2 separate regions of the Homo sapiens genome follow, and region 2 is linked to region 1. The links come from fine-mapping of genetic effects on gene expression. Tissue or cell type: prefrontal cortex. Region 1 holds a variant in brackets; the other region holds the start of a gene. All regions are shown on one strand. Distances are from middle to middle.

Region 1 (16,584 bases):
CAAGCAAGAGATGAACCCAAGGTCACACAGCTCCCGAGCAGCTGGGCAGGTTCAAATAGGCAGGTGCAAGGGCCTCATTCTGTTCCCCGCACTGCCCTGACAGTCCCAGACAAAGTCAGGAAGCCCAGAGGAGTCTGGAAGCCTCCTTAGCATGGGTGTTCTCTCCTTGAAGTTTGGAGCTGTCCCTTTAGAAGGCAAGGGGATAGACTAGATGACCCGGAGCCCAGAGATTCCAGCACAAATTTGTTTCACATCACAAAATAGGTCTGGCCAGTTGGTACCCTCTACCTTCATTCAGTGGGAATGAACTTGAACTCAGCCCCTGAATCCTCAATACAGTCTATGAGGATCCTCAATACAGTCTTTGAGTGATTGATTCGTGATGTCTGCCATAGGTGTGGAAAGGGGCATGTGGCAAGCTGAGTTCTGTTTTGCCAGCCCTGTCTTAAGAGGTGCCCTGCTCAGGGGTGTTTGCATATTCACTGGAGACTTTTTTGTTTGTTTGTTTGTTTGTTTGTTTGTTTGTTTTTGAGACAGAGTTTTGCTCTTGTTGTCCAGGCTGGAGTGCAATGGCGCAATCTTGGCTCACTGCAACCTCCACCTCCCAGATTCAAGCGATTCTCCTGCCTCAATCTCCCAAGTAGCTAGGATTACAGGCATGTGCTACCATGCCTAGCTAATTTTGTATTTTTAGTAGAGACGGGGTTTCACCATGTTGGCCAGGCTGGTTGCGAACTCCTGACCTCAGGTGATCCACTGGTCTCGGCCTCCCAAAGTGCTGGGATTTACAGGTGTGAGCCACCACACCTGGCCAGGGACTCTTAAGAAGGATAATTTTGTTGTCAGTAAAGGATCAAAATCCTATCGGTGGTCTTTTGGGCAGTCCCATGGCAGCCTATCCCATGAGCCATCAGAGGACCTATTTGGGAACAAGGAGGAGCTTCTTTAAGTTATACCAACAATTGTACCTACTCTGACCACCCTACGTGTTGTCTGAAAATATACAGATTTGTTTCTAAATCCTGTGAGTGGGGAAGGAGTGGGTGACAAGACCAGAACTGGAGCTGGCACCAGGCTGACAGGCAGCACGTCCAGGTCTAGGGCCTTGAGTTCATGCACCCAGGTATGGCATGAAGTGAACTCTTAGGCCCAGAACCTGCCTGGGCAGATAGGCCAGGAGGCAGAGGCTGTGCTGGTGGCAGGTGGCAATCAGAAGACCTCATGGAGTAGGCAGTGTGGGCCTTGAGAAGAAGTAAAGCGTTAACCCAGGAAACACAGCAAAGAAGAGCATTCCAGTCAGAAGGAACAGCCTGGGCAAAAAGCCTGCTGCTGAGAGGAAGGGCATTGTGCATTTCAGGAACTCCTAGCTCTCCTCGAGGCTGGAAGGGGCAGGGAAGTGGAGGAGAGGAGAGCTGGCAGGGTGGGCAGGGGACAACCATGCTAGGCCTTAAGGGCTGGCTGAGGAGCTAGACTTCCTCCAGCAGGGAGTGGGGAGGCTGTTGGCAGAACCTGCAGGGAGAGGAACAGGTCTGGAACCCACAGAAGCCTATCCCAGGGCCAAACTGAGCCACAAACCAGGAGGAAGCAGAAGGGGCCAGGTCATAGCTGCCTGGCCAAACCCCATTCCCGAGCTCCCAGGGCCTCACCCTTCATCCTCCCAAAGTCTGTGGCCGCCAATACGCAACTTTAAATGCCTGAGCTCAAGTAGACCATTTGAGAGTCCCCACAGAGTTTGGGGGTCACTGGGTCCCAGCCCCAACCTGGACTGAGATTTGAGCTGTGGAATGGGAAAGCGGTGGGGAGAGCTGCCCAGGGCCACACACGGAGCTGGGTCTTCAGTGCCCCCACTCCAGCAGGCACACCTCCTGCATGTTCTAGGCCGGCTCCTCCCAGCGCCCTGCCCCTCATCCCTGACCCCAGGCCTCTGGGCTGGAGTCCAGAGGCTGCAGGAGGCTGGGCTGGGATCCTAGCTGAAAGCGGGTGTGCTGGGGGTCAGGGAGGAGAGCAGCCAGGCCTGCAAAGAGGAGCCCTGCAGGAGTTGGCCTGGGCAGGTGCCTGTGGTCAGGGGTGTGCACTTGTGAAGGCATGTTTGAGGGTGTCACAGGTCCATGAGGCCTGCAGATGTCATGTGTGTGTCCTGGACCTGGAGCCTTCCTCTGCCCCACCCCTGAGGCCCTCCAGCCTATTGAAAACCCCCTATACTGCAAAGCCCAGACTTGGCCCCTGGAATCTAAGGCTTGAGTGGGGCTCTGGTCAGGTCGAGGGGCAGGGGGTCCTCCTGGTGCTCAGGGGCAGGACCAGCCCAGGGGCTGAGGGGCTGGACCAGCCCATTGAGGGGCCCCCAGCTGGGTCCAGACTTCCTATGTCTTATTTAGCTACAAAGCCAGGGGTCCCAGGCAGTCCCAAGAAAAGCAGCTCTAGCCCTTCCCCTCCCCGCCCTTCCCTTCCCTTCCTCTTCTCTTGTATCCCTAGCCTCTCTTTTTGACACTGTAACTCAGCACAGAGCTGAGCCGATCTCACAGCCCCTTGGAGGCAGAACCCCAGAGAGATGGACGCCCACAAAGGGAAAGGGACCAAAGGGAGCTTTGTGTGATGTCCCACAGTGGCTCAGTGAGAGGCAGGACTCACTCCTGGGACTGTGGTCCTCAGACCCATCAGGGCCCTCCCAGTCTGTATGCTCCCACAGCCTCCTCGATTTGTCCATCAAAGCACATGTCACAATTTCAAACTGCATTTTTCACCACATGACCGGCATCCCTCTCTCCCACGGAAGTGGAGCCTGTGTTTATTCCTGCATGGAATTAAGTGCCTGGCACATAGTAGATGCTCAATAAATGTTTGCTGCATGACTGTATAACCCCAGGACTCTAGAGAGAGCTTCAGAGAAGTGGTGACATGTGTCCTAAATCCAGGCAGAGGAGAGAGGACAGCAAGTGCACGGGCAGGGAGGATGCAACCAAACCTGGTGGGGTGGGGAGCTTCCCAGAGAGTTAACGTCCTGTGGGCCGGAGCTATGCCTGGAGGCTCACCAGGCACCTGCAGACCCAGACAGGCAGCTGGAGAGGAGCAGAAAGAGCCGCAGGAGCCCCAACCTTTTCTCAGGCTGCCCAGGTGACTCAGCCTTCGGAGGACCCCTCGGTCACCAGGCTTGGCCTAGGTGTCTAGGTTCTGATCCCAGTGGCCCCACCCACGGTAGATACAGACCTGGACCCCAGAGGCCTCTGCGGTCCCAACCTCCCATGGGAGCATGGTGGAGCCCAGTCGTCCCCCTTATTTTCCAAGGCTCCCCTGCTGTTTAATCCTGGGCTCCACGCCCACTCACCAGGGGATTCGGGCCACTCACTCCGTCCTCTCATTTTGGGTCCTCCAGACCTCCCCAGACTGAGGGAGGGTACAGAGGGCCCATCCTCCTCCATTTGGAACTGCCCCCAAACCCTCTCACATGGCTCTGGGGACAGCAGCATCGATAAGCATCCTGGATGCCTGGGACACTGCAGGTACCTGGCCTCGGCGTGCTCAGAACCTACATCTGAGTTGCCAAGCGTGGCCCCTCCCTGCTCACCACTGTGATCAGGCAGTTGCTGGGCTGCTCAGCTGGGAATTTCTGAACATGGAAATCACTTCCAAAATCCTCAGACCCTCTGAATGTCTGGGGTGCCCCAAATCTACCTGGCAACAGCTTGAGTCTCTCTGGAAACTGCTGAGAACGACCGAGAGATGTGACTCTTACCTGCCGAAAGGAAACAGGCTAAAATGAAAAAAGGGCTATGACCACATCTCCAGAGGCTGCAGCCAAGAGAAATTCAGTTTTCAGCTGTGGCTGCAGTAGATCTGACTGGCCCGGTTTCCTCTGCATCATGATGGGAAGGAACATCTGTCCAACAAGACCCTTCCCTGCAGCCCCCATTTTGGTTAGCCAATTTTTTTTTTTTTTTTTTTGAGACGAAGTCTTGCTCTGTCACCTGTTGCCCAGGCTGGAGTGCAGTGGCAGGATCTCAACTCACTGCAACCCCCGCCTCCCAGGTTCAAGCGATTCTCGTGCCTCAGCCTCCCGAGTAGCTGGGACTATAGGCATGCGCCACCATGCCAGGCTAATTTTTGTATTTTTTAGTAGAGACAGGATTTCACCATGTTTCCCAGGCTGGTCTCGAACTCCTGACCTCAAGTGATCCACCCGCCACAGTTTCCCAAAGTTAGTGGCCAAATTTCTAACCTAAAGGGCAAAAGACACAAATAAATGTGGCTTTTCAGATGGGAAGGTCCCACAGGTGTCTCTGAGATTGAGTATAGAAGGAGCCTAGGATTTAGAAAAAGATCGATCTGATGACAACCATTCATGAGTTGTTTGTCTCTGAGCCTCAGTTTCCTAATCTGTGAAATGGGAATGATAAGTCTTACATCCTGGGGATAGTGTGAAAATTAAATGCGCTGGCATGGATGAAGACCAAGCACCGAGAATAGTTCATTATTATTACATGTGAATGTCACCACAGAGATAGAGAGAGTGGCATGACGCAAAAAGCACTAATTTGGGGGAAAGACAGCCTAAGTTCAAATCCTGGCTCCACTGCCTCCGGCTATGTGAACTGAGATGACTTACGCTACCTCTCTGAGCCCCCATTTCTTTACCTGCAAAATGGGAACGCAGACAACTACCTAGAAGGGTTGTTGCAAGGTTTAAATAAAATAACGTGTGCCTCGGGGGAGTGCTCAGGGATGTCAGCCCTCCTCCACCGTCCCAGGCGAGAAAGAGCTGTCTCGGGAGGGTGCTCAAGGCTCTGGCATGGGGGTGCAAATGGGATTATGTGATCCCAAGCTCCCAAATGCCCCCAACCCAAGGTCCTGCCCCTCACCAACAGCTGACTGATGAGAGCTGAGCACCCAGACCTCCCTCTGCCCTGGCAAATGACACACAGCTGCTGTGAGGTGACTCTGCGAGAGCCAGTCTCAGCCCTGTCAGAGGGAAGGAGCTTGAGGGTGGCCCATGTGCTCCAAGGGACTTCTCTCCAGAGCTAGCAGCAGGGCCCCTGCTGGACACACAACAGAATCCAAGGGGCTTTTCTGCACCTTCAGAGAACGCTTTGTTATGTGGGGCCAGACAAAGCCCACTGAGGAGTTAATGTCCCCCCAGGAGCCACGTGGTCCGAGCCTGTGACTGGTGGACTCTGCTTTGCTGAAGTCTGGTGTAGGTACAGCCGTGCATCTTTTTTTTTTTTTTTTTCAAATCAAGGAAGGAACCTCATTTTATTCTGAATGTGTTAGTTTTGACCGTCTTCACCCTGAAATTTTCTCTTTGTTTAATTTTATTTATTTATTTTTTATTAGTATACTTTAAGTTCTAGGGTACATGTGCACAACGTGCAGGTTTGTTACATATGTACACATGTGCCATGTTGGTGTGCTGCACCCATTAACTCGTCATTTACATTAGGTGTATCTCCTAATGCTATCCCTCCCCTCTCCCCCCACCCCACGACAGGCCCCGGTGTGTGATGTGCATCTTAATGACTGGGACACATTCTGAAAAACGAGTTCAGGTGATTTCGCTGTTGTGCAAACATCAGAGAGTGTGCTTACACAAAGAAATCTGGATCGTATAGCCTGCCGCACACCTAGGCTGTACGGTACAGTCTATTGCTCTTAGGCTCCATACCTGTGCAGCATGGTACTGTACTGAATGCTGTAGCCAATTTTAACACGACAGCAAGTATTGATGTATCTAAACATATCTAAATACAGACAAGATACAATAAAATTCCCATGTAAAAGATAAAAAAGGAGCCTGTAATCCCAGCACTTTGGGAGGCCAATGCAGGAGGATCACTTGAGGCAGGAGTTCAAGACCAGCTTGGGCGATATAGTCAAACCCCTCCACCCCAACTATCTCTTCAAAAAAATTTAAAAATTAGCCAGATGTGCTGGCACATACCTCCTTGTGGGGCTGAGGTGGGAGGATTGCTTGAGCCCAGGAGTTTGAGGCTGCAGTGAGCCGCATTCACACCACACTCCAGCCTGGGCGACAGAGGGAGACTCAATCTCAAAAAAATAAAAAAGTAAAAAATAAAAATAAAAATAAAAAAATAAAAAATGGTACACCTCTCTATGGTACATACCATGAGTGGAGCTTCCAGGACTAGTAATTGGTCTGGGTGAGTCAGGGAGTGAGTGGTGAGTGGCCTAGGACGTCACTGTATCCTACTGTAGACTTAATAAACACCGTACACTTAGCTTCACTAAATTTACTTAAAAATATTTTTCTTTCGTCAATAAGAAATTAGTTTACTATTAGGGTAGTGCAAAAGTAATTGCTGTTGTTGCCGTCTAAAAAAAAAAAAAGCCACCGGCTACGGTGGCTCACGCCTGCAATCCCAGCACTTTGGGAGGCTGACGCGGCGGATCGCCTGAGGTCAGGAGTTTGAGACCAACCTGGCCAACAAGGTGAAACCCCGTCTCTACTAAAAATACAAAAAAAAATTGGCCGGGCGTGGTGTCACGCGCCTGTAATCCCAGCTACTTGGGAGGCTGAGCCAGGAGAATGACTTGAACCTGGGAGGCGGAGGTTGCAGTGAGCTGAGATCACACCGCTGCACTCCAGAACAAAACTCTGTCTCAAAGGAAAAAATAATAAATAAATAAATAAATAAATAAATAAAACACAATTACTTTTGCACCAACCTAATATAACATTTTTTATAAAGTTGGTCTACACTACCATCACCCCAAACACACGAGTAATGGCTTGTGCTGTGACGTCACAATGGCTGCAATGTTACTAGGGCAGAGGAATTTTTAGCTCCATTAAAACCTTAGGGGACCACATTCATATGTGCAGTCCATTGTTGACCAAACAGTCATTTTGCAGCACATGACTCTATTTATCCATCTGACCGCTGGCTGCGGTCAGCCCTAGGGATCACTAACCCATCCCAATAGGCCCCAGGAAAGAGAAAACCACATTCCCGCTCACTGTATTAGAGATGGGGTTCCCAGCAGGAAACAGAGCGAACCCTGGGAGGCCAATTGAAGAGATTTTATGAAGGGACTGCTTCAGAGAGGTGGGCTCCTTTAAGGAAACCAACCACTGCCTGCACAGAGGTGGGCTCGGATGTTGAGGTACCCAGAGACCAGCAACAGCACTTCTGCCTGGAATTCCCTTCCCTCTCCTGTCAGTCCTGTGGCTGGCACTCAGATGTGGGCTGAAACGTCCGCTCTCCCAGAGGCCTTCCTGGCCTCACAGGCTCAGCCAGCTGCCCCCTCACTCTCTGCAGCACCTCCCATTGTAATTCCCTGAACATCTCTGATCGCCAGCTGATACGTTTCCTCATTGACTTATTTATTTTCCTGTTGTTCCCATTACTGCAGACTCCCCAAGGGAGTGTGTCTTACTTACTGCGGCACCCCCATTGCCTAGCATGGAGCCCATCATGCAGTAGGCACCCAGCACCTATCTATCAGCTCAGAGCCTGGGCGCTCACCCTGTTCTGCCCAGAGCCCTGAGAACTCTCCCTCTCCCTGTTTCTCGTTTTCACTTCTGTCCATTTTACTTTGTCATCTTTGAGTCACTTCTCACTTGAGGCAGGAAGAAAGAATCAAGACTTGCACTTTCTTTCTGGACAAAGAAGGAAATGAGCCACAGGGTCTGGGTCCAGTGAGGCTGGGGCAGGGGTCATGCCTGCCGCCTCCCCTGAGTCAGGGACCAGCTTCCTGGCCAGGACTCCCAACCTGCCTCCTTTCTTCTCCAAGCCTTTCCTCACCGCCTTCCTCCTGCCTAGAGCATCCCTTCAAGGGCCTCAAGTCTCTTCCAGGTTGACCCCCTCATTTATGGCTGAGGAAACTGAGGCCCAGAGGGGTCAGGGCCTCTCCCAGGCATATGGCACTTGCATTCTGGGGCCTATCCCCACCCTGGGAGTCCACTTCCTCCAGGGCCAGAGGCAGGAACCAGAAGGCAGGGGCCGTCGATACTAAAATCAGTGGGCCCAGAGGTCAGCTGGCCCAGCACAGACACCCTCAGCCCTCCCTGAGGTCAGCCTGGCGCCAGCAAATCAGGGGAAATGTTACTAGAGTTTACAAACCTCTTGTGATGTACAGAGTCCAGCCTCTCCCTCTGGCCAGACAGGGGACAGTCAAGGGAGGAGGCCATCCCATCCAGCACCTTGTAGATCCTTGTCTGTCTCCATATGTGAGTCCTGGTTCCCTCTCCCACCCACCTGTTCTTCCTCTACATCATCCCAGGAGTTGCAGGTCAGTAACACAGGGACCCCAGAGGGTGGAGAGATAGAGTCAGGGCTGAGAGAACATGCTAATGGCCAAGGTCACAGCCTGCACTCCTCGTGGGGCTGTAGAGAAAACCCCTGTTCCTGGAATTCAGAATGAAGCCAGGCCTTGATCTCTGGGTGATCCACATCCCTACCCCACAGACCTGCCTTCAAGAGTGTGCAACCTGTGCAACTGTACAGGGCTTGCACTTCAAAGGGCATCATCCTTGGTTTAATGTTCTGTCGCCTTCTTAAAATTCTTTTGCACTGGGCCACACAAATTATGAAGCCATTCCTATGAACCCAGACCCTCAACTCACCACCCCACCCACCCCTGCTCTTCTGACAGCAAAGCTGACCACTCACTGTAAGATCTGGAGTGAAGGGCTGGCCCTCAGGGTTAAGACAGTTGGATTTTCCTAAGAGCCTTCTGAAGACAGAATCAAGGCAAAATTGTCAAAGGGGCTTTCAGGCAGGAAGATGTTTGCCGAGAGAAGGCTTTAAATCTTACCCCATAGCAGCTGCTGGGACAAGGGAAGTCAGGAGGAAAGGATTTGAACTTCCGGGCCAGACAACCTTGGTTCAAATCCTGGCTGTGCTCCTTACAGTTTGGGTGATTTCAGGAATGTTCTGAAACCTCTCTGTTCCTCTTCTGCAAAATGAGGGTTATAATTACACCAACCTGGAAGATGATGGGGAAGATTAAATAGATAAGATATATAAAGTGCTTGAAACAGTGCCAGGCAAAAAATAAATGCTTGATAAAGATTAGCTATCAGACACTTGGGTTCCTGTCTGAGTCCCACCACTTACTCCAATGTGAACTTAACATCTGTGTGCCTCAGTTTCCTCATTTGAACAATGAGGATAACCTGAGCACCCAATGCCTGGGGACTTAGGAGCTGCCATTGGCATCAGCCTCACACCCTCTTCCTGGAGACCTTCCCCACAGGCCCTCCTCTGGGCTCCCATATCCCCTGCACTTGCTTCCGTCCTAGCACATGTGACTCGCAAGTAGAAATGGTTTCCACGTCTATTTTCACCCTCCCCAGTTCGGAGTTCATCAAGGCATGAAGGGGGTCTGGTTCTGCTGGTGTCAGCAGACAGTGAAGGATGAAGGAGTGAACAGATAAAGGGAGTTAGGTTCCCTATGGAAGCTGCTCACACCCTTAGGCAGTGGCCACCATATATGGGCGATCGGTCAGAGTGGTGGAAGAAATTTTAGGGAAAGGACGCAAACCTTCTTGAAAGGTCAGAAGGTTTTGCATAGCTTCGGGGAAGAATAAGCAGAAGGCAGCTGTTCTACCCTGAGGCAGAGGGTGAGGAGTAGGTACAAGGAAGTGTAGGGAAATTTATCTTAAATGCGCTTGTTTACTCATGTTGTCCTAAAACCGACCTTTCATCCGAGTGCATGACTGCTCCCTGAAAGGGGGAACAATAATGTTAATTACCCGCAGATTGTGTTTGCCCCAGGCTTTTGGCATTATATCTAGCTGCTCTTATGTGAAATACCTGTGTCTAAGTACTCCTTTCATCGTCACTGGCCAGA[G/A]TCTGAATGTGTCTCCTCTTTCCCCAGATCTGTTCCTCCTGGGAAGATGCAGAGGCTCATGATGCTCCTCGCCACATCGGGCGCCTGCCTGGGCCTGCTGGCAGTGGCAGCAGTGGCAGCAGCAGGTGCTAACCCTGCCCAACGGGACACCCACAGCCTGCTGCCCACCCACCGGCGCCAAAAGAGAGATTGGATTTGGAACCAGATGCACATTGATGAAGAGAAAAACACCTCACTTCCCCATCATGTAGGCAAGGTAAGGCTCAAGCCCCAGGACAGGAGAAGCCATCAGCAGCTGGCCCATAGTGACAAGTGGTGGTGGTGATGGCGATGGTGGCAAAGGTGGTAATAGATATTGTGGTGGTTGTAGGAGTGGAGATGATAAGGGTGAAGGTGGTAGCAATAGTGGTAGAGGTCGTGGTGGTAGAAGTAGTGGTGGTAATGGTAGCAATGGTGGTGGTAGTGATAGTGATGGTGGTGAGGATGGGAAAGGCCAAGGTGGTGGTGGGAGTGGTGAGAATGGTGGTGATGGTAGTGATGATAAAGGGGTAGGTGGTGGTTGTGATGGTGGTGATGGTGGTGGTGGCTGTGATGGTGGTGATCACGGTGATGGTGGTGATGATAAAGGGGTAGGTGTTGGTGGTGATCACGGTGATGGTGGTGATGATAAAGGGGTAGGTGTTGGTGGTGATCACGGTGATGGTGGTGATGATAAAGGGGTAGGTGGTGGTGGTGATCATGGTGATGGTGGTGATGATAAAGGGGTAGGTGTTGGTGGTGATCACGGTGATGGTGGTGATGATAAAGGGGTAGGTGGTGGTGGTGATCATGGTGATGGTGGTGATGATAAAGGGGTAGGTGTTGGTGGTGATCACGGTGATGGTGGTGATGATAAAGGGGTAGGTGGTGGTGGTGATCATGGTGATGGTGGTGATGATAAAGGGGTAGGTGGTGGTGGTGATCACGGTGATGGTGGTGATGATAAAGGGGTAGGTGGTGATTGTGATAATGGTGATGACAGTGATGATAAAGGGGTAGGTGGTGATTGTGATGGTGGGTGATGGTGGTGATGATAAAGGGGTAGGCGGTGGTCTGACGATGGTGATGATGGTGGTGCTGATAAAGGGTAGGTGGTCGTTGTGATGATGGTGATGATGGTGATGATAAAGGGATGGGTAGTGGTTGTGATGGTGGTGATCACGATGATGGCGGTGATGATAAAGGGGTAGGTGGTGGCAGTGATGGTGGTGATCATGGTGATGGTGGTCATGATAAAGGGGTAGGTGGTGGTTGTAATGGTGATGATGATGGTGGTGATGAAAGATAAATGATGATGATGGTGATGAAAGATAAATGTTGATGGTGGTGATGATGGAAGTGATGATGATAGTGATGGTGATGGTGGTGAGGTTGGGGAAGGACAAGGTGGTGGTGGTGGTGGTAGTGATGGTAAAGGGGAAGGTGGTGGTTGTGATAGTGGTTGTGATGGTGGTGATGATGGTGGTGGTAATGGTGAAGGATAAGTGTTGATGGAGATGGTGGTAGTGATGATGGTAGTGATGAAAGATAAGTGTTGATAGTGGTGATAATGGAGGTGATGATGATGGTGGTGGAGGTGGTGGTGAACTCTATGGTTCAATTTCTCCCAGACCTTGGTCTGTAAACTAGATATCACTAACAGAAGGGCCATCCAGTGCCCAAGCTGATGAGGCTCACCTGGCCTGGGGGTTCAAGGTTTAGGACAAGACCAGCCAACCCTGCCGTGAAATTTTCCCATTTGAAAGATCGGAAAAGAACTGTGCAGCCTTCCACAAAATTGTGCTGAAGATGAAGTTAATCATCCAGGCCATATTTTTGCCAACTCCAGTCTAGGCCTTTGAACCTCCTCAAAAACCCCTTCTCTCAGGCTATCCCTGGTTCCCTGTGACCCCACACAGCTCCCCATATTCCACAACACCTGTAATGAGGTACCTGACCCAAGCCTGCCCTCCAGGGCAGGACCTCAGACTCTGACCCTCACTTTGTCCTCCTTTAAAACATGTCTATCCTAAGCCCATCCTCCTAGAGCTCAGAGCATATCTGAGTGACTGCTGAATTGCCTTACCATGTCAAACTGTCACTGATGTCAAAGCTATCCAGTCTAATTGAAAGGAATGGCCCTAGTAGTGGAATTTCACACACAATGACAGGTAGATGGACCGTGTGCTTTCAGAGTTTTCAATGAGGAAGAAAGTTTATTTTGAGTGCGTTAAAATCTCACTTTGTCAGCTTCTTGGAATCTAAATGACAGGTGCAAAAAAGAACATGTCAATGTGCTAGAGAAAGGAAGGACCATTCCAAGCACCGGACTGGGTGCCAGAAAGGTAACAACAGTGGGCTAAGACAGACATGGTCCCCACCCTCATGGAGAGGGTGGTCTAGAGCAAGGATCAGCAAACTACCCCCTGCGGGCCCAATCCAGCCCACTGCCTGGACTTGCAAATAAAGTTTTATTGGAACACAGCCACACTCATTCATCTACAGATTGCCCGCAGCTGCTTTCATGCTACAATGGCAAAGTTGAGTGGTGGTGACAAAGACCAAATGACCATAAGGCTACAAATATTTGCTCCCTGCCCTTTACAGAAACAGTTTACCCATCCTGGTCTAGAGGGGCAGCATATGTCAGACAAAGAACCCCACAAATGGTGTGGGGGTGCCCTCTGGCTGTAGAGAAACAGGCTGGAGAGGAACTTTTGATGGGAAGGCCCAGTCTGGCCATGGCACCAGAAATGCCCCAGCAGACCTTGGTCCGTGGACTGGCTATAGGGCCATCCCATGCTCAGACTGAGAAGGCCGGTGTGGCCCCAGGGTTCAGGGTTTAGGGCAGGGCCAACCATGGCTGCCATGAAATTTTCCCATTTGGGAAATTAGGAAAGATCTGTGTAGCATCTGACAAAATTGGATGGGAATGGGGCCAGCTGGGGAATCTCCACTCGGAGCCCCACCCACAACCAGCTGGCTGTGCCCATGGCTCCCAACAATAACTGGGATCTTGAAGTCCTCCAGCATGGCCACTCATAGGGGAAGACACTTGCCCAGGGTCACACTAGGAGACCAGGACAGAGCCCCAGGAGAATGCCGCCCTAGGAAAACCAGCATTCCTGACTCTCAACACAAATGCGAGCTCTGTGTCATACAGGAAAATGTCGTCAATCCACCTGCATCCTTCCCGGTGGGATAATTGTGCCTTGAATCAGCCTCTAAAAAGAATGTCTGACCTCAAGGAAAATCTATGGAGTGAGTCAGGGAAAGTCCGTAGAAAGTGGGGGCTACCTTTCAAGGGCTCGCCCAAGGGTTTCTAGCAGCAGGAAGAACGCCAGGCCTGCTGTCATTTGCCAACAGCATTCACTTGGCCCCTGGCATGGGGCTGGGTCTCCGAGGAACCACAAGGGGTCGTCACGCTGGGAAGAAACAAGGGTGCCTGGAAAAGACAAGGACAGGGCTCCAAGGATCACCTCCGGCTCCTGAGGATGTAATCTGAGGGAAGGAAGTCCCTGTTTATCAAGGTCAGAGCCTGGAGCCTTTGTTTACAGACCTGGCTGGACAATGGGAGCAAGTCCTGAGCCGCCTTCTGAACCCACAAATATGGGTTTTTGGCATTAAGATGTTATGTTTAAATACAGTGATCTTAGAAAACAGGGGTAGGGAGAGTGGAGGCTCCCAGAAACCCATAACCCTCATCTAATCATGAGAGAAACATCAGACAAATTCCAACAGAGGGGCATCCTGCAAAATACGTGACTCATACTCCTCAAACCTGTCGAGGTCATCAGAAACCAATGAAAGTCTAAGAAACTATCACAGCCATGAGGCACTTAAAGAAACATGACACCTCTGTGGAATGTAGTATCCAGTGTGGGATCCTGGAATAGAAAAAAGACATTAGGTAAAAAAAAACTAAGGAACTCTGCATAAACTATGCCCTCTGGTAAATAATAATGCATCCGTATTGGTCCATTAATTATAACAAATGCACCACATTCATGTAAGATGTTCATACTCCGGGAAAAAGAGGAGCAGGCATCTGGAAACTCTCTGCCCTAGTTTCTCAATTTTTCTGTAAATCTGGAACTGTTCTAAAAAATAAAGTCTAGGGAAGAAAAATTGAAGGGAAGGAAAACAGAAACTGGATATTCACATGAAATTGTATGCAGAACTCCAATCACACAGATCCAAGCTGATTTCCTCCCTCCATCCTCCCTGCCCTGGTGGGTCCTAACACACTCACCGAGAGCCCAGTTGGAAGGCCACCATCTTATCCTCACCTTGAGCAACTCACACAGGGCCCCAAACTGTCCCCTTCTCTTTGAGTCTCCACTGTCCTCGCAGGTCACAGGTTACAGAGCTGAGGCATGGCTTCTTGCCTCTAGTCCAGCTGTTCATCATGCATCCTGGCCACTGGGCCTTAGTACCTCCTCATGAACCCACCTGCCCCCTGCACGCCACAGCCTTGCTCCAAGATGCTTGTTGCTGCCCACCTCTCTCCCACCCTGCCCGACCAAGGGGGCAATCCTCACTCCCTGTCTCCACTTCCTCCCCTTCTAGAATCTTCCCTAGGCTGCATCATCTAACTTCCCACCCTATCAACCCCTGTCAGTGCCCTCACTGAGGGCTCCAATGACTGCACTGCTGCTAAACCCTGGGGACACTTTCCAGACCTCATGGGATGTGGCCATACCCTCTGGAATCTCCCTCTTCTTTCTTGAGACCCCAGCCTCTCTTGAGTTCTCTGGAGGAGTCCAGCCTTTTTTTTTTTTTTTTTTTTTTTTGAGTCTGAGTCTCGCTCTGTCACCCAGGCTGGAGTGCAGTGGCGTGATCTTGGCTCACTGCAACCTCTGCCTCCCAGGCTCAAATGATCCTCCTCCCTCAGCCTCCCAAGTAGCTGAGACTACAGCTGGGTGTGCCACCACACCCAGCTAATTTTTTTTTTTTGTATTTTTAATAGAGATGGGGTTTCACCATGTTGGCCAGGCTGGTCTCAAACTTCTGACCTCAAGTGATCCACCCACCTTGGACTCCCAAAGTGCTGGGATTACAGGCATGAGCCACCATGCCCCCCGAGTCCAGCCTTTCTAAAGAGTCCTCACCAGATGCCTTCACACAAAAGCCCTTGCTCTATTTGACTTTAAATAATGTGAGGCAGACTCAGTAGCTCATGCCTGTAATCCCAGCATTCTGAGAGGCCAAGGCAGGAGAATTGCTTGAGCCCAGGAGTTTGACAACAGCCTGGACAACATAGTGAGACCTCATCTCTACAAAAAAATACAAAAATTAGCCGAGCTTGGTGGTGCACACTTGTAGTCCCAGCTACTCCGGAGTACCTGTCTCAAAAAAAAAAAAAAAAAAAAGAGGCTGGGCGTGGTGGCTCACACCTGTAATCACAGCACTTTGGGAGGCCAAGGCAGGCAGATCACTTGAGGTCAGGAGTTTGAGACCAGCCTGGCCAACATGGTGAAACCCTGTCTCTACTAAAAATAGAAAAATTAGCCAGGCACGGTGGCACATGCCTATAATCCCAGCTACTCAGGAGGCTGAGGCAGAATAATCGCTTGAACCCAGGAGGCGGAGGTTGCAGTGAGCCAAGATCGTGCCACTGCACTCCAGCCTGGGCAACAGAGCTAAACTCAAAAAACAAACAAACAAACAAAAAAGCAATGTTGCACTTCCTCAGCATGCCAGCCTCTGAGGCTGCAAACCTAGATCCTGAGAGCCACAATGGGATCTGTACCCTCTGTACTCCTAGTGGGGGCCTGGCACCTCCCAGGCACCAAGTTATATTTTTTAATTGAATAGAATTCTATTTTGGGGACATACTAACCTTCTATGAGAGTATCATTGTATATGCATAGAATACTATTCTATAGGAACTATACCGTTCCTAATATTTTCTGTTTCTATGATTCTTTAAATGGAGATCCTCTAACCTGTGGCTCTATTATTGATAATTATTAGCTAGCATTTATAGAACCCTGTTTGGTGTAAGATGCTTTACATATATTATTTTCCAAATCTTACTCCTTGGGACATGAACAGTACATGTTACACAGAAAAATGGTTCTGTGGTCTAAGAAGTATGGAAAATCCTGAGTTACACAAAGCTCACTGGAGTTCTTTTCTGCAGAGCTGTACATTGTAAATCTCCAAGAAGAGAATATTTTATGCACCATTTTCTGTACTGGGCCCAGGGGTGTGCTGATATATGTTTGACAACTGGCTGTCCAGGGGAAAAGTTCTGATGCGTAGCACTTGCCAATTTCCATGGTGTAAATATTCTCACCATGTCTCATTTCAAGCTATCAATGTGATGTCATCGAAGGCCAAGACAAGACAGGAGAAGATCCTCATGAGCACATCATTATGTAGCATTTCCATCATACAGATACCATAAACACAGATAACCTCAAAACACAGTCAAAGGTAGCAAAACAATTAGGAAGCGATGAATTCTGAGAATTCGTTGTTTTTCATGATTTATTTAATTGTAAGTTCATATAATTTAATTTGTAATAGTGGCTGTATTTAACAATCAGCTCACAAATATTCCTGAAAATTTAAGCTGGTTCTTGAAAGCCAAGCTGATACAATCCAGCGCCAGCACACCACTGGCTAGGACCCCATCTTTGCGTGGAACAGCAGAAGAGTTCAGTGTTTCCCAGAACTCATCTTCAAAAGTGCTGTTCTACTCCTCAGAGCAAAGCAACATCAGAAGCAATATTTCCATTTTACAAATGAGGCAAC
Region 2 (12,156 bases), 810 kb after region 1:
GACAAGTCCCCGCGCAGGCCCAAGAGGGCGGAGACGTGGTCCTCGCTGCAGGGGCACCAAGGAGGCGCGTCAGCCCCGTCCTCCCCGCCCTCCGGCTTCTCTTCCCTTCTGGCCCCCAGTCCGCACCTCACGTCGGGAAATTGTTGCCGCAGGCCAGCCACCTCCAGGCCCAGCAGCGCGGGGTCGCGGAGGTTTAGCAGCTCCCTCAGGGCGAGCAGCACCGGCGCGCAGTGCGCGTTCTCCTCCAGGCCCTGAGCACGTCGGGGTAGGGTCTCGCGCCAGCCCTCTCTCCCACCCAGCCACTGAGACTCTCGCCCGTCTGCCCGCCCAAGAAGCTCTCACCAAACTGAGGAAAAGCTGCTGAAGCTGGGCAGCATCGTGCCGCAGGCGCTCGGCCGCCTGGGTCCTCTCGTCGGCTCCGCGGCACACCAGGCGGCCTTGCATCAGCGCGCTCAGGTACTGGAGCACCACGGCACGCTCGGCCTCAGCCAGCAGCAGCTGCGGGGAGGCAATCAGGCGGGTGCAGGTCGCCTCTCACCCGCGCCGCCCCTTCCCCAATCTTTTCCCCCAACCCACCTGAACCGTGGGGTTCCGCACGCGCCAGAAGTCCCGGCAGAAGCGCCCCGTCCGTTCACACACACTTTGCAGGAGCTCAGGGCTCGACAGCCATTGGCGCGAGGGCAGATCCGCGAACAGGGGCTGGGGAAATGATCCAGATCTGGCATTGCCGCGGAGACCCCCATACGTAGCTGTACCGCCACCTCTCCACCTGCTCCCATCCTGACCTGAAGGAGGCCTCACCTGGAGCTCCGCCTGCAGCGCCTCCAACACCAAGCGGTAGATCCTCCTCTGCAACTCGTCCAGCGCAGCTTCCACTGGAGCCAAGGCCCCTGAAGGCGCCCCGTCCAGCTGCAGGACAGACACTGAGGAGCTGGACCAAGCAAAACTACGGCTTCAGGACCAAGGCCAAGGCCCGCATGGCCCTCGGTGGTCCAGACCCTCCGGCGCCACCTTGTGGGGCAAGTGTTTGACGGGAGGGAGCGAGAACAGCGGCTCTCTGCACTTCTGGTCCCAGGCATGGACCAGGGCTGGGAGACGGGCGCTTGGCGAGCTGCAAAGGACACAGCCCAGCGAGACCTGCCTCAAATTCGCGGTGCGTCCTTGAGGAAAACATTCTTTCGGTTTCTGTTTCCTCATTCGTAAAGGAAGGGAAGTATCCCAGTGAGGAGGGAGTAAAAAATCATCACTTGTTTTCCTTGCCCCCACCAAAAAGAACATACCACCCAAGAGGAAGGGAGTGTGTGTGTGTGTGCGTGTATACACACAGCTGTAACCCCAGACATTACTGGCACAGAGTAGGGCCTTGAAATATTTGCTGGACGAATGAACAATTGACACCATGTGCCAGGCACTATGGTGGCCACTTTACATGTTATCTCATGTGATTCTCAGAACATTCCATTAGTACCCCCATAATACTAATGAGAAAAGTGAGATTCACAGAGATTAGGTAACTCATCCAAGGTCACACAACTAGTAATTAGCAGAACTAGAATTGGAACCCCAGGGCGATGTGAGTCCAAAGTCCCTAGTGTCCTAGTGTGGGCTGAGCCCATACATAATAGGTACTCAATAGGGGGTTAGTGAAGGTGGGGTTCCCTGGGGGCCTTCTGGTACCTGAGTGCTGACTTGTGGTTGAGGGCGGCCAGTAGGTAGGGCACGTAATGAGGGGCCATTGATTTCCCCCTGAAGTGGTCTCGGGAGAATCGGATCAGAGCATCACTGAAGCTGCAATGGGCAGAGGTGGCTCCTGGACTTGCTGCTATGCTGGCATCCCCACAGCCCCAGTCCCTGGTACTCCTGTCCCACCTCCAAGATACCCAAGTCCTTGTTTGAAAGAGCCCTTTCCCTGTGACATGTCTTATTCACTCAGAGCCCCTTTGGGCTGCCTGGGGAGCAGGGATAGGGATCAGGAATGGGTCAGTGCCTCAGCAAACCTCCTCAAGAATGTGCCCAGTTCTGACAGTGCCATGCCATGCACTCGCTGTTGCAGTGACTCACTGACCAGGCTGGCCACACGAATGTTCTCTTCCAGGATCTGCAGGCAGAAATGAGCAGCCATCGGCAAAGCCTCCCTCCTTCCTCTCCTCCCCACTGCCCCATGGAGGCTGCCTGCCTGTCTGGCCACTTCCCACCTACCTGCAGCACAATGGCTGGCATTGGTGAGTAATAGGAGCCAGACGGGTCTGTGTTGGGCCCATGCTCCCGGCCCCACTCAGCTACCTCCCCATCCAGTGCATTCTGCAGCCACTGAGACACACTTGCCTGGGGGGAGGGGCCAGGGGCAAAGGAATGTAGCAGGGATCTGACCCTGCTGGAGATGGGTAGACATTCCACTCTGCAGATAAAGGCCCACAGCAGATAAGTAGGACTTCTCTGGACCTGTGCCTCAACTACTCACCTGGATGTTGGCCACAAATGTTGCCTCCAGCTGCTCAATGTTCTCCAAGGTCAGAAGGGGCTCCAGCTGGGACACATCAGCCTCAGGCCCCAACTCCAGGCTCCCCATCATTTCCTGCCTGGAGATAGGTGGCCTGGTGTCACACCAAGCCACCAAGCCCCCAGCCTCTGATCCCCCATGTCCCGCTGCCCCAAAGGCACTGACCCCAGGTACACATGCAGTGCCCAGTGCAGCAAGGCGAAGGCATCCGCAGCTTCTAGCTCAGGCCCTGCAAGGAGGTTCTGCAGGCTGCGGCGCAAACCACTATGCAGCGTGTGGGCCCATAGCTGGACCACGTTGTACTGTGGCGGGCAGCAAGGCGCTACTAGTGCCTCAGCTGTGGCCAACTCGACTGGCAGGGCCACTCGCAGAGCCTCCAGCCACCCTGGTAGGGCCCCTGGTGCAGGCAGCAGAGGTGACCCAAAGTGGGCCTGCTCCAGGCCCTCCTGTAGTGCCCTCAGACAGCGCTGACGCCAGTCCCGGGGGACCTGGCCCAGGGGGGTTGTTCGTCCAGTCTCCACCTCCGCCACACGCACAGCAGCCACCAACAGGGCTGGGTCCTCCCGTGCCAGCTTCCCTGCGGCCCCTGCAGCTGCTTCCACAGCCTGGCCCAGTGCCTCGAACAGAAGGTCCAGCCCCTGGAAGACTGGCAACTCCAGGCCCCCCAGGGGTGCCCACGTATCCTCTCGCAGCTGCTCCAGCTCCCGAAGGCTCACATATGCCTCCAAGAACTGTTGGCCATCAATCAGAGTCTGTGTGTGGGACACTGCAGCCGGCACTAATGAGAGTGAAAAGGAGACGGCCCTGGGTCTCAGCCTTCCCACCGCCTCAATGTGTACAGCAGGGGATACTGAGGCCCAGGGCGGGGGTGATGCATAAAATATTTAACAACCAGTAGAGTAAGCTGGGCACAGTGGCTCATGCCTGTAATCCCAGCACTTCGGGAGGCCAACGTGGGTGAATCACTTGAGGTCAGGAGTTTGAGACCAGCCCGGCCAACATGGTGAAATCCCATCTCTACTAAAAATACAAAAATTAGCCAGGCATGGTGGCACATGCCTGTAATCCCAGCTACTGGGGAGGCTGAGGCAGGAGGATTGCTTGAACCTGGGATATGGAGGTTGCAGTGAGCCGAGATCACACCACTGCACTCCAGCCTGGGTGACAGAGTGAGACTCTGTTTCAAAAACAAAACAAAACAAAAAATGAACAAAAAACCATAAATAAATAAATAAATAACCAGTAGAGTACTGGCCAATCTAAGAGGATCTTGGCAATGTCCTAAAGACCTGGTGGGCCAGAGGTCAACCCATGAACTCATGGAATATGAGGAAGCTGAGGATCCTGGAGGGAAGGCAGGGGAAATCGGGGGGTCCTGCCAGTACTCGCTCAGCCACTCTGTTAGGGAAGAGTTTGAATATACTGATAACCAGGTGGCCAGAGTCACATGACTGGGTGTCTGTCCTGACTCAAGCATCCCACACGTGGGAATCCCAGGATGAGCTGCCTCATAGGCCATGGGAAGCCCGGGCTACTGTCTGGGAGGTCCCTGGTGTGCTGCTCTATGCAGTTCCCCATCTAGTGCCCCAGCCCCTTGATTAGGGATGGGTGTTTGTGGACTGACTATTGGAGGCTGAGGCCCAGGGTCCCTGCATGCTCACCTGCCCGCAGCCGAGGCAGCAGGTGAGACAGGGCCTGCAGTTGCTTGTGCTGGGCAACCCGCTCCCGTAGGGGCTCTAGAGTCTGTAAGGCCTGGGACATGCCCTGGAGCAACCCACGGGCCTGGCTCAGGGCCTCCCGGGTTCCCTGCACCACCTCAATGGCCTGGGCCAGCTGCCACACACCAGTCTGCACGCCTTCCAGGTATGACTGCATCACTGACTGTGGAAAGATGGAGCCATGAGGCTGGGCCAGCCCTGCAGCACAGTCCCAGCACCCGCACCCCCTGCCCCATGCCCACCTTGAGGCGCGATTCCAGGGAGCAGGTACGCTGCACCTCGCGGCTGCGGTACTGGCCTAGCCTGGCCAGCTGCTCCGGCCGGTAGAAGATGCCTGAGGCCCACTTGAGCGCTGCACCCCGGGCCAGCTGCTCTGCCCGCTCCTGCTCTGGCCACTCAGGTCCTGGGAAGGAAGAGCCTGGGCAGCCGTGTAGTCAGGGAGGAGGGCCCAACGACCCCAGTCCCAGCTTTCTTATTTATTTATTTATTTATTTATTTGTTTGTTTATTTGTTTATTGAGATGGAGTCTCGCTCTGTTGCCCAGGCTGGAGTGCAGTGGTGCAATCTCGGGTCCCTGTAACCTCCGCCTCCCGGGTTCAAGCGATTCTCCTGCCTCAGTCTCCCGAGGAGCTGGGATTACAGGCGCGTGCCATCACGCCCAGCTAGTTTTTGTATTTTTAGTAGAGACGGGGTTTCACTATGTTGGCCAGGTTGGTTTGGAGCTCCTGACCTCAGGTCATCTGCCCATCTTGACCTCCCAAAGTGTTGGGATTACAGGCGTGAGCCACTGCGCCCAGCCAGTCCCATCTTTGTTGCCATCATTCCTCCCCTAGTCCACCCAAAAGGTTCATACCAGGGGACAACGCCGGCTGCATCTCATCCTTGGCTGCTGAGTCCATTGTGGGCCTGGAGGAGCCAGAGCTGAGGTGGGCCCGGGGCAAGCAGGCAGAGTAGATGCCCCTGTGAGCTGCTGCCTCTGTCTAAGCCCTTCTGAGAGGAGGAAGGAGGTTCTTCCCGGCCCCCTCGGGAAGTGAGAGGGAGCGGGTGTGATGCGGAGGGCACCTGGGAGGCTTTGCCTGCTAGGTTTCCCAGTCGTGCCCCTGCAGATGTCAAGCGAGACAGAGTGGGCACAGGCCTCCACTGGACCCTGGTCCTGCTCTGAGCTGCACAGGACAGTTTGGTACAGAACTTACCAGATTTGATCAGGCGTCCAGTTCTCCCTCCAAAAATGACCTTGGCCTTGAGAACAGCCCTCTCCCCAATGCAGCTGGGCACGCCTGCCACTTGCTCACAGGGCCTGGGCAACTCCAGCTGACTCCAGCGTGCAGCTGAATTCCTCTCCCCAAGGAAGTCTCTCTCCCACTCCCCACCCAGAAGCCCCTTCTTCCCACCGAGGCTCCTCCCTCCCCAAGGCCATCAACAGAAAGGAAGGAAGCTGAGTCTCTGGCATTTTATTCCCAACAGGAAAGAGTGTCTGCACAGAGGGTGGGGACAGCTGGGCGACACTTCCCTGAGGGGCGGGGGGGTGGGGTGTACTTGTACTCAACCAGTCTTGACCAGCCTACCCAGAACCTCTTAGTGCTCAGGAGAGGAGATAGGGATTTGCTAGACTTGGCCTCAACCTGGGGTGGTGGGCAGAGTGTGCAGATATGGATGCAGACGACATCAACAGCACAGGATGAAAACTGTGTTGGCCAGCCTCTGAGGAGGATGTGTACCTCTGCGGAGGAGTGAGAGGTGGCAGGCTCTTGTGAAGAGGGGTGTGGTGGGGGGTGGTAGGAGAGGGTCATGAAAGCTGTGTTTATCTTTTTTGTTTTAGACAGGGTCTTGATCTGTCACCAAGGCTGGAGTACAGTGGCACCACCATAGCTCACTGCAGCCTTCTGGGCTCAAGCGATCTGCCTGCCTCAGCCTCCCAAAGTGTTGGGAGATTACAGGCGTGAGTCACCGCAACTGGGCAGCTGTGTTTATCTTGAGAGTTATAGGGAGCCAGGGAAGGGACTATAAGGTGGTAATTATTTAGTGGATGTTCAGTCCACCACCCAAATCCACCCTTCAGGACAGAAGTGCTCATTCTCCAGCTGCCAGGAGTGTAGGCTACTGAGATCACACCACTGAGTCTCTCAGTCAATATTGGGGTGCAAAAGCATGGTACCATCGTGTGAACATGAACCCTTCAGAAGTGCTACCCCAATTTCAGAGATCCTAGTGGGATAGGCTGAGGCCTATAATATAATTGCATCTGCTCAATTCTGCTTGTCTTAATCCCTTAAAGGTGTGGATCCTGACCAGGTGCGGTGGCTCACACCGGTCATCCCAGCATTCTGGGAGGCTGAGGTGGGAGGATCTCTTGAGCCCACGAGTTCAAGACTAGCCTGGGCAATATAGTGAGACCCACATCTCTAAAAAACTAAAAATAAATGAGCCGGGCATGGTGGTGCATGCCTGTGGTCCCAGCTACTTGGGAGGCTGAGGTGGGAGAATCGCTTGGGCCCAGGAAGCTGAGACGGCATTGATCTTGCCACTGCACTCCGGCCTGGGCAACAGAGTGAGACCCTGTCTCAAAAAAAAAAAGTGTGGATCCCCAACAAACTTGCTGCAAAACCCTATCTCGAGTCCCATTTCCCAGAGGACCTGATCTAAAAGAAACAATAATAAATAGTAACAATGTTAAAAGTTACAAAATGACCGTATCACACATTCCTGCATGCCAGGAATGACTGAGTGCTTTACTGATATTTACACATAGGTAAACACGTTTGCATTGGCTGAAGTGTTCATAACCCCATAGTCTCTGAGCACTGTACTGTGAGGACAAGACGAGCGAAAGATGAGGCTAGGACCATGGGTGGAACAAGGTGGACAAGGTAGATATAGTTAGTGCTTGCTGTTTGGCAGGAAGTGAGGGATAGGAATAGATGGGGTGACCCCAAGACAGTAGGGCAGCCTTTAGGAACAGGTTTGATGTGGCAGTAAAATGAGTTTGAAATATATAAAAGAATAAATAAAGAGAAAAAAATGGAAAAGGAACAGGTTTGAGGGAGCAGATTGGATTAGTCAGGTAGTGTGGTCTCCTCTCCCAAGATGGGGACTAGGCAGAGTTAGTGATGTTGGGGCAGATTGGCAAGGAAAGTTCCGATGGCGTCCCCTTCTCTACTGCCAGGGCGGCCCACTGACGCCCTTCTCATTCCTCCCCAACTTCATCCCAACTCCCCGGTCTACCCAGGTAGTTTTCGTCTTATTCGGAGGCTGGACATTTGCTACTGGTCCCTGAAGTTTTGCGGCTGCACCCACAGACAGCAATAGCGCCACGTTCCCTGGAAGGCGCACGGGACGGAAGCGGAAGCAGTAACGCTGGCTCCGGCTGCCCGGCGGCCAGGAACGGAAGCGGAAGTGGCGGCGGCGCCGGCCTGGCCTGGCCTGGCTGAGGGGAGGCGGCGGGCGGGCGCGATGGCGGAGGCCGGGCCACAGGCGCCGCCGCCCCCGGGCACTCCAAGCCGGCACGAAAAGAGCCTGGGACTGCTCACCACCAAGTTCGTGTCCCTTCTGCAGGAGGCCAAGGACGGCGTGCTTGACCTCAAGCTGGTGCGGCCTGGGCTAAGGGGAGACAAGGGAGGCTGGTGGACCAGGCCTGGGCCGGTAGCGGGAACCCCGGGGGCGGCCCAGCTGGGTCCTCCGAGAGCCGGCCGCCATCGTGTGCTTTCTCACAGGAGAGAAGCCGGGGGATGTTTCATTCATTCGGCCGAGGCCATCGAGCTACAGCTATGGGCCAGGCTCGGGCTGCAGGTGTTCGTCCTCGTGGCCCTTCCTGGCTGGCGAGGAGAAGAGCTGCCTATGGGACAGAGCTGCGGTCCTGAGCTGCAGTAGCGCCTGGGAGGCACTACAGGGTTGGAATCCAGATTACTCCCTTCCCAGACCACGTCTCAGGGTGGCTGGGGGTACACCCCAGAGTGGGGCTGAGCATTCTCCATTCTCTCTGCCAGGCAGCTGACACCCTAGCTGTACGCCAGAAGCGGCGGATTTACGACATTACCAATGTTTTGGAAGGTATCGGGCTAATCGAGAAAAAGTCCAAGAACAGCATCCAGTGGAAGTGAGTGGGCATAGTGGGAGGGTAGTAGAGTCTCCCACCCAGAAGTGTCGGGCGTGGGGTGGAGGGTGCCGAAGAAGGCAGGGGCCATGGGACCCAGAGTTCTCAGCAGTCCCTCTCAGCCCCACTCCCTGGGCTCAGGGGTGTGGGGCCTGGCTGCAATACCCGGGAGATTGCTGACAAACTGATTGAGCTCAAGGCAGAGATCGAGGAGCTGCAGCAGCGGGAGCAAGAACTAGACCAGCACAAGGTGTGGGTGCAGCAGAGCATCCGGAACGTCACAGAGGACGTGCAGAACAGCTGATATCCTCCTGGCGGTCCCTGCTGGGGGGAGTGGGCAAGGGGCCCTCTGGTTCAACTTGCCCTGAGTCCTGTTCCTCTTGGGAGTTTGTCTTATAGCCACTGGCCATGGCCCAGCCTCAGGCTCCCTCCTCAGAGCCCCTCCCCTTCCACTCTTAGCCTGTGATCCCTCCCCCGGTGGACCTGAGTCCCCAGAACGGTCTCTGAGGGCCTGTGTGTCAGACCTTAGCTAAAGAATTGGGTCTTTTCTGTAGTCTGCCATCTGTCACCATAGGGCATCAGCCATTCTCCTTAACCCTCACACTTTGGCCTACGTCACTCATGAGGACATCTGCAGATGCTTTGCTGGTGAGCAGAGCCTGGGTAGGGGTAAGGGGGTGGGCTGGGCTCAGCCAAAGTCCTGAGCACTGGGCTCAGTGTCTTAGGAGAGTTCTGTCTCTTAAGAGGGTTTCTGGGGCCTGCTCAGAGAGGAACCAGGCAGGGTAAGTCTTCTGTCTGAGTGTCACTGGGACCCTGTGGAGGTCAGCTATACCAAAAGGGTACAGAAATTCTGGAGTGGGTCCCTGGGTCTGTTCCCATCTCTACTGTTTCCTGGATTTGGCTTCTTGGGTATGATAGAGGCACAAGGGGGAGAGAGGGAGAGAGGATATGTGTGTATTTGCTTGTGTGCAGGCTCTTACATGCAGGGCATGGGGGTGCCCACTTCCAACTTGTTAGTTTAGTTGCATTGTGAATACAGGATCTGTTCCTTTTTTTTTCTTTTTAAGAGATGGGCTCTTGCTGTGTTGCCCAGGCTGGTCTTGAACTCCTGAGCTCAAGCTGTCTTCCCTCCTCAACCCCCTAAAGTGCTGGGATTATGGGTGTGAGCCACTGTGCCCCGCTGATGTGTTTCTTCTCCATCTTGTATGCTCCTGACTGGTCATGGGAAAGGGATGTTGGCCTTGGCTAGAACACCCTCACCTAGGGATCAGCCATCGGTAGAGGAATGAGGTGCCTGTGGCCAGTGATCTTTCACTCCACATAATTGAACCCAGATTTCCTGGTTACTGACCCTGGGCTCTCAGGAAGAGAAGAGCTTTAGCTCTGCCTGGCCACTATGGGGGATGGGTGAGGCCCACTGTCTAGTTCCTCAGGGACCGTGATCTCCTGCCTTGCTCCAAAAGGCAGGCACCTCTGTTCCCAGCTCAGATTGAGCCCATGGGCTCTGACCCATTCTCCATGTCATTCTAGGAGATACCCTCTTGGCCATCCGGGCCCCATCAGGCACCAGCCTGGAGGTGCCCATCCCAGAGGTGGGTGCTTAGCCCAGGCAGGCGGGGTCAGCTGAGGGCGGGTGCTGGCTGTGGAGCCTGATAAGTCCTGGGTGGGGCAAGTAGGGGGAGGCCTGGAGTTTGGGGTTATCTAGGAGGATGGGCATCCTGGGTGGGAGAGGACACTGTGGTCCTGACCCGGAGTCGGGCAGGAGCCAAGCCTGCTTACAATTCTACCCATCTCCCATCCCTTACCACCCATCTCTAGGGTCTCAATGGGCAGAAGAAGTACCAGATTCACCTGAAGAGTGTGAGTGGTCCCATTGAGGTTCTGCTGGTGAACAAGGAGGCATGGAGCTCACCCCCTGTGGCTGTGCCTGTGCCACCACCTGAAGATTTGCTCCAGAGCCCATCTGCTGTTTCTACACCTCCACCTCTGCCCAAGCCTGCCCTAGCCCAGTCCCAGGAAGCCTCACGTCCAAATAGTCCTCAGCTCACTCCCACTGCTGTCCCTGGCAGTGCAGAAGTCCAGGGAATGGCTGGCCCAGCAGCTGAGATCACAGGTGAGGCACCATGGGAGCTTGTGACAGAGGCCCAAGAGGTAGTATCTCTGTGTTGTGGAACACCATGCTCAGAGTTGGAAGAGACTCTTCAGGTTGGGGATTGTCCTTTTCCTGACCACCTAGCCTTCCCTTGCTATGGTAATGAATGAGCCTTTTTTGTTTTTGTTTTTGAGACGGAGTCTCACTGTGTCCCCCAGGCTGGAGTGTGCAATGGCGCGATCTTGGCTCACTGCAACCTCTGCCTCCCAAGCTCAAGAAATTTTCCTGCCTTAGCCTCCTGAGTAGCTGGGATTACAGGCGCCCACCATGCGCAGCTAATTCTCGTACTTCTAATAGAGATGGGGTTTCACCATGTTGGCCAGGCTGGTTTCGAACTCCTGACCTCAAATGATCTGCCTGCCTCGGCCTCCTGTAGTGCTGGGATTACAGGCTTGAACCACCATGCCTGCCTGAATGGGCCCTTTTTAACAGGGAACCTCTGACTGTGGGAAGAGCCATTGCTGGTGGCAGTTTTCTCCCCCAGATCCACATCCACTGGTGTCTCAATTGCCCTGGTAGCCCGTCTTGAAGTATGGCCACAGCAGACATGTTGACCACGAGTCTTCTTCTGTAGGTCTTGTGTCCCTGTCTCCTGTGGTGACTAATTTCAGGTTACTTCCTCTGGGGGTGACTGGCAATGCCTAATTCTCCTTGGGTCTGGGAACCAGGCTTGTGGTCCTCCTGTGTCTGGGTTCCAGCACAGCCAGTTTCAACGACCTCTTCCTGACCTTGTATGACTGGGTTTGGGGGCTATCATTGTAGTGAGTGGCGGCCCTGGGACTGATAGCAAGGACAGTGGTGAGCTCAGTTCACTCCCACTGGGCCCAACAACACTGGACACCCGGCCACTGCAGTCTTCTGCCCTGCTGGACAGCAGCAGCAGCAGCAGCAGCAGCAGCAGCAGCAGCAGCAACAGTAACAGCAGCAGTTCGTCCGGACCCAACCCTTCTACCTCCTTTGAGCCCATCAAGGCAGACCCCACAGGTGGTGAGTACCTGCCCCCTGGGGGCAGAGAGAGAGAGTCTAGCCTCAGTCCAGTCCTAGGTCAGAAAACAGAATTGGGGATGGAACCCAGATCTCCTGTCAACCCTGCTGGACACGAGAGCTCTCTGCCAGCACCTCTGGGTCAGTGCTGGTGCCCCCTCTAGCACCCCATCCTAGGCTAACACAGAACTCCCTGCCGTCTCTCAAGCCCTTTCCTGCCACCCCTTGGAGCACCGCCTCACTAATTGACACTTCTCTGTATCACTCTCTCTCATCTTCTCTGTCTCCTTTCTGTCTGGACTCCTTGAAAAAGTAATCTCCATTCATTAGTCTCCTAGTCACCTTTCAGGTTGCAGCAGTCACCCCCCCAGCCCCAGTGTTACAGCGGTGTTACTCTTGAGAAGCTGCCGAAGGCCTGCCGAGCCCAGCAGCCTCCAGCGTGTTTTGCTGGTGCTCTCTTGGTCTGTGTCAATATTCTTTCCTCCTTTGGCATCATGATGCCAGCTTTTGGCTCTCCTATCTCACTGGCTTCTTGAACTCTTCCCTGGCGTGTCCTTAAACATTGCTGTTTTTGAGGGCTCTGTCCCATTCCACTCCTGGAGAGGGCTGCAGCTCTGGGTGAACGAATCCCCAGCCTCCGCCTGGCCTAGATCTTTTCCCAATCTGCACACTTCGGTGTCCACCTGCCGTCCTGTGTACATCCAATGGACAC

What was found. PIP is the estimated chance that this variant, and not a neighbour inherited with it, causes the effect.
Region 2: it holds the start of E2F4, and the variant in region 1 is the best candidate, but not a certain one, in a credible set for the expression of E2F4 in prefrontal cortex (GTEx, PIP 0.55).

Annotation. Positions count from the first base shown.
Region 1 is chr16:66,369,488-66,386,071 of GRCh38, forward strand. CDH5 (cadherin 5) reads left to right here. Exons shown (of 12, transcript NM_001795.5): 2 at 9,832-10,060. The coding sequence starts at 9,851. It overlaps LOC105371318 (a long non-coding RNA gene), which reads right to left and starts at 6,314. Exons shown (of 3, transcript XR_933687.3): 1 at 6,114-6,314; 2 at 3,670-3,730. RefSeq lists enhancers at 1,507-2,008, 3,207-3,736, 4,379-4,952, 9,988-10,614, 13,712-14,236. The variant G/A (reference allele first, on the strand shown) is at 9,805.
Region 2 is chr16:67,184,560-67,196,715 of GRCh38, forward strand. E2F4 (E2F transcription factor 4) reads left to right here and starts at 7,596. Exons shown (of 10, transcript NM_001950.4): 1 at 7,596-7,803; 2 at 8,202-8,311; 3 at 8,450-8,611; 4 at 8,913-8,956; 5 at 9,839-9,900; 6 at 10,127-10,421; 7 at 11,223-11,447. The coding sequence starts at 7,669. EXOC3L1 (exocyst complex component 3 like 1) reads right to left here and starts at 5,577. Exons shown (of 14, transcript NM_178516.4): 1 at 5,412-5,577; 2 at 5,072-5,124; 3 at 4,461-4,621; 4 at 4,162-4,381; 5 at 2,666-3,278; 6 at 2,462-2,579; 7 at 2,200-2,325; 8 at 1,998-2,098; 9 at 1,678-1,788; 10 at 802-931; 11 at 577-699; 12 at 343-498; 13 at 127-251; 14 at 1-45. The coding sequence starts at 5,117. RefSeq lists enhancers at 823-922, 7,319-8,249, 7,418-7,557, 8,638-8,747 and a silencer at 7,648-7,837.